Regions from separate parts of the Homo sapiens genome. Here region 1 is linked to region 2. Evidence: fine-mapped expression QTL. A gene starts in region 2. The other region holds a variant in brackets. All regions are shown on one strand. Distances are from middle to middle.

The links. PIP is the estimated chance that this variant, and not a neighbour inherited with it, causes the effect. A credible set is the group of variants that fine-mapping cannot tell apart.
Region 1: its variant is the best candidate, but not a certain one, in a credible set for the expression of FCRL2 in whole blood (TOPMed, PIP 0.75).

The regions. Positions count from the first base shown.
Region 1 is chr1:157,704,256-157,707,187 of GRCh38, reverse strand. No RefSeq gene overlaps it. Among named protein-coding and RNA genes, the nearest start is that of FCRL3, 5.0 kb to the right of the region's middle. The variant G/A (reference allele first, on the strand shown) is at 1,705.
Region 2 is chr1:157,775,373-157,778,243 of GRCh38, reverse strand. It overlaps FCRL2 (Fc receptor like 2), which reads left to right and starts at 1,112. Exons shown (of 12, transcript NM_030764.4): 1 at 1,112-1,201; 2 at 2,449-2,469. The coding sequence starts at 1,171.

The sequences.
Region 1 (2,932 bases), 71 kb after region 2:
GCTTCCAACTCTATCTATGTCCCTGGAAAGGACATAATCTTGTTCCTTTTTATGGCTGCATAGTATTCCATGGTGTATATGTACCACATTTTCTTTATCCAGTCTATCATTGATGGGCATTTAGATTGATTCTATGTCTTTGCTATTGTGAATAGTGCTGCAATGAACATATGCATGCAAGTATCTTTATAATCAAATGATTTATGTTCCCTTGGGTATATACCCAGTAATGGGATTGCTGGATCAAATGGTATTTCTGCCTCTAGGTCTTGGAGGAATCACAACACTGTCTTCCACAATGATTGAACTAATATATACTCTCACCAGCAGGGTATAAGCTTTCCTTTTTCTCCACAACCTTGCCAGTATCTGTTGTTTTTTGACTTTTTGATAGTAGCCATTCTGACTGGTGTGAGATGGTATCTCATTGTAGCTTTGATTTGCATTGCTCTAATGATCAGTAGTGTTGAGCTTTTTTTCATGTGTTTGTTGGTCACATATATATCTTCTTTTGACAAGTGTCTGTCCATGTCCTTTACCCACTTTTTAATGAGGTTGTTTTTTATTTTTTTCCCTTGTAAATTTGTTTAAGTACCTTGTAGATGTTGGATGTTAGACCTTTGTCAGATGGTTAAATTGCAAATATTTTCTCCCATTCTGTAGGTTGTCTGGTCATTCTGATGATAGCTTCTTTTGCTGAGCAGAAGCTCATTAGTTTCATTAGATCTCACTTGTCAATTTTTGCTTTTGCTGCAATTGCTTTTGGTGTCTTTGTCATGAAATCTTTGCCTGCGCCTATGTCCTGAAGGGTATTGCTTAGATTTTCTTCTAGGGTTTTTATAGATTTGGGTTTTACATTTAAGTTCTTAATCCATCTTGAATTAATTTTTGTATATGGTGAAAGGAGGGGTCCAGTTTCAATTTTCTGCATATGGCTAGCCAGTTCTCCCAGCATCATTTATTAAATAGCGAATCCTTTCCCCATTGCTTGTTTTGGTCAGGTTTGTCAAAGATCAGATGGTTTTAGGTGTGTGGTCTTATTTCTGGGCTCTGTACTCTGTTCCATTGGTCTATGTATCTGTTCTTATACCAATACCTTGCTTTTTTGTCACTGTTGTCTTGTAGTATAATTTGAAGTCAGGTAGTGTGATATCTCCAGGTCTGTTCTTTTTGTTTAGGATTGTCCTGTCTATTTGGACTCTTTTTTGTTCCACACACATTAAAAAAATTTTTTTTTCTAATTCTGTGAAGAATGTCAATGGTAATTTAATGGGCATAGCATTGAATCTATAAATTGTTTTTTCATGATATCAGTTCTTCCTATCCATGAGGATGGAATGTTTTTCCATTTCTTTGTGTCATCTCTGCTATCCTTGAGTAGTGGTTTGTAGCTCTCCTTGAAGAGGTCCTTCACTTCCCTTGTTAGCTGTATTCCTAGGTATTTTATTCTTTTTGTGGCAATTGTGAGTAGGAATTCATTTATGATTTGGCTCTCTGCTTGTCTACTGTTGGTGTATAGAAATTCTCATGATTTTTGCACTTTGATTATGTACCGTGAGACTTTGCTGAAGTTGCTTATCAGCTTAAGAAGCTTTTGAGCTGAGATGATGGGGTTATCTAGATATAGGACCACGTTATCTGCTAACAAACATAGTGTGACTTACTCTCTTCCTGTTTGAATACCTTTATTTCTTTCTCTTGCCT[G/A]ATTGCCCTGGCCAGAACTTCCAATCCTATGTTGAATAGGAGTGGTAAGAGAGGGTATCCTTGTCTTGGGCCGGTTTTCAAGGGGAATGCTTCCAGCTTTTGCTCATTCAGTATGATATTGGCTGTGGGTTTCTTATGCCCTAGGATGCAAGGTTCAACATATGCAAATCAATAAATGTGATTCATCCCATAAACAGAACTAAAGACAAAAGCCACATGATTATCTCAAATGCAGAAAAGGCCTTCAATAAAATTCAACATCTCTTCATGTTAAAACCTCTCAATAAACTAGACATTGAAGGAACCTATGTTAAAATAACATTTTGTGTCTTTCTTTTCCATTGAATCTATTCAAAGCATCTTGATTTTCACTTCCTCTTTGAGTGAAGTGCTCCTGACACCTCAGCTCTGAATTCAGTGAGGGACCTCTTATGTGACACAGCATCTACTCTCTCAAGTGAGCAGACCAACCTCTGCTTGATATGGAATTGTACTGGCCTAAGAAGACTGTCTCCTAGGGAATATTTTCACCTTGTACTTACATTTAGTTCAGTTAGAAAATATAACTGACCAGGTGTGTTTCCTCACACCTGGAGCCCCAGCACTTTGGGAGGCAGAGGTGGGTGGATTGTTTGAGTCTAGGAGTTCAGGACCAGTCTGGGGAGCACAGCCCCATCTGTATATGAAAGAATTAAAAAATTAAGCCACCTACAATAACTATGTAATCATGTCAGTAATTGTTTAAATGTTTTCCACCCTTGAGCCAAGAGAATGCCACATGAATTCAAGAGTAATCCATCCAGTTTGCTGCTTGGACCTGAAAGCAGGGTGAGATTTGGGGTGACTGAGACATGGGAAGCTTTTCTAGGCTTCATTCTAGCAATTTAAAACTAGATTCTCATTGGTGTTTTGTAGCATACAAGGAATCTTGGAGCCAAAAATATTATTCCAGTCACCAGTGCCTAAAAATGCTTTAGAGATTTCTATTTTTGCCCCTCCCTCCCCCCAAAAAAAACAAAACAAAAGACTATCTGCTTCAGCTATGACTACCTAGAAAATGTGACTGTGCCTACTGTGGGCCTCTGTTGAACCATCTTGCAGCCCCCAAAGTTCTGTTGCCAGGCAGCACTTGTGTCCTTCCAAGCACTTACTGCCCATACGTAAGCCCTTGCCTTGTCTGTCCCTGCTTACAAGGGCTTCGCAGCAATCTTGAAGGCCCTCACAAGTT
Region 2 (2,871 bases):
TACTGGGACTACATCTAATCAAAGTGAGCATGATAATAGGTGTTCACATAACACGCGCTTTGCTTTGTGTGAGATAACTGTATTAGGATCAGCCTGGGGTACAAAAAGCAATGCAGATTAGAAATAGGCAATGTTGTGATTACAGATTAGAAAGATGGCAATGTTTTCAGCAATATAGTGCAAGTGTTTTGAAGTTTAGTAAAATCTCATTCTAGAAAGTCATCGAATGACTACGAAAAATTTTACTTAAGAAATATGAGCTATTGAAACAATGGCCTTATTATTTTATGAACCTTGAGAAGCAATATATCAAGATAATAGGGCACAATGTTTAAGAGCCAGACTGTGACACTGGGCTGCCTGGGTTTGAATCCCAGATCTGTTACTACTAGAAATTGATTAAGCTGATCTTGGTCATTTTACTGGCTGCTATCATCTGAATGTTTGTGTCCTGGCAAAATTCTTATGTTGATACTTAATCCTCAATGCAATAGTAATAAAAGGTACCCACCTTTTATTACATGACCTTTTAGGGGTCATGAGTGTGGAACTCTTATGAAAAGGATTAGTCTCCTTGTAAAAGAGGCTTGAGGGAGCTTGTTTGCTCCTTCCATCATGTGAAGACACATAGAGGACACCATCTATGAGAAACAGGCCCTCATCAGACACTGAATCTACTGGTGCCTTGATCTTAAACTTCCCAGCCTCTTGAACTATGAGTGATAAATTTATGTTGTTTATAAATTTCTCAGTCTAAGGTATTCTTTATAGCAGCCCCAATGGACTAAGACACTTACCTTTACTAGTGCCTCAATTTCCTTATTCATGTGAAAGGGGATAGTGCCAATTCAGAAACTTGCTGAAGGTAATAAATAACTCTGTAAGCATGAGGCACTTAGAACTGTGTCTGACTCATTGCAACCCATATGTAAATGCTAGGTATCATAATGAGGGTCAAGTTACAAAATTTCTCTGGCATTGAGAGGATCAGCTATAATTGTTTTAGCCCTTCCAGGACAAAGATAATGGTTAAACATAGTGGCACTATTCTACTTCCTTTTTTGCTAATTATACAAAACCTATTCTGAAAACCACATTTCATCGCCTGCTCAGAGTCTCCAGTTGGTGACCAAGAGTACATCTCTTTTCAAATAGCTGGATTAGGTCCTCATGCTGCTGTGGTCATTGCTGGTCATCTTTGGTGAGTTCAATAATTTGACTGAGAAGTGAGGTGGCAGCTGAATGAGGTCTACTGCTCCCAAAAGGTTGGAGGTTTTATTGGAGCCCAGGGACTGGTGGGGATGCTCAGGTCCTGCCTGCAGCTTGGGCTTCAAAGGCAGATGCAAAGAAGTAGGCTGAGGACAGTGAATTTGCAGCACATCCATTAAGCATTAAGCACAATGCTTAATGTTCAAGGTGGACCACTTTTCCATTTGCTGGTCATGAATTGCTATTTTGATATCTTAGATCTCATTGAGTAATATAATGTTCTCATAGTAAAATGTTCATAATATTAGCATTTAGCAATGCCCTTCTCCTCCATGAACACCGATTATTCAATTGTTATCTATAAGATTTGGGTTCAGCAGATGCATTGAGACCCTTTGCTAATATTCCTCTGTTTAATCGTGGACAATGAGGGAGATGACAGCTGCTGCTAGAAAATAAGATTCCTGGGTGAGTGCAGTGGCTCATACCTGTAATCCTAGCACTTTGGGAGTCCAAGGCTGGTGGATCACTTGAGGTCAGAGTTCGAGACCACCCCGGCCAACATGGTGAAACCTCATCTCTACTAAAAATACAAAAATTAGCCAGGCGTGGTGGTGGGCACCTGTAATTCCAGCTACTCGGGAAGCTGAGGCAGGAGAATTGCTTGAACCCGGGAGGTGGAGGTTGTGGTGAGCCAAGATCGCACCATTGTACTCCAGCCTGGGTGAGAGAGTAAATAAGATCCCTTTCTCTATGCTGTGTAGGCACTAAATAAATATTTGTTATTGGAATACAAAGGGCTCTAACGTGAAATATGGCCATAGGAAAGAGACTGATTTGTTGATTTCTTGGAACTCTCACAATGTATGTTTCCTGATGAGCCCTTTGTGATCGTGTTGTCATGTCTATCTACCACTTGAAAAGTCAGAGTGTGAGATAGAGTGGTGGGGATGGTGGAAGGAAAATGAAATCAAGGAGAGTCACTAAATATCCAACATGGGTATTCTCGACAATCCCTTTAGTCAAGCATTGGGTTTGCAACTTGCCTTTTGACTACAATGAATGACAGTTAGATGTGTGCTCGAGGGAGATTGAATTGTTAGTAATAAGAGATTAGGGAAATAGAAAAGAAAGGGAAAATGGAAAGAAGTTTTTGAGCAATTTACCAGAGTAATATAAATTTATAAATTATGAGGGCAAATGCTGTGTGCTAATCTCTGGCTTTTGATCTCCTCACAGATGCAGTCACTGAACAGGCAGGTGAGTCCTCCTTGTCTTTGTTGTTCTTGGTCTCTGGCATATCAGTCACCCCACTACCCCAGGATTCTATAGAGGTGGCTCTGGAAAGCCTGTGAAGATGTCCTAATATTACTGCCCTCTAGGCTGACATGTTCTGAGGTCACGCAGCCTGTTTCCAACACCACTTGCATGTCTGGGTGACCAGGTACCACCTAGCCTTCTCAAGACCCCACATGCTTGCCTCTTCCTTAAAAGCCTGGCTTTAAGAAGGGCAATAACATGCAGATTGAAGAAAAGAACAATTTGGAGAGAATTGTTTTCCTGCCCATAGGACTGTAATGCCTCTTTATTGTCTGGCTGAATGCTGAATGTTTTTACAGCTCTGAAAACAGCTATTTATAGAGGAATGTGTCAGAACTACAA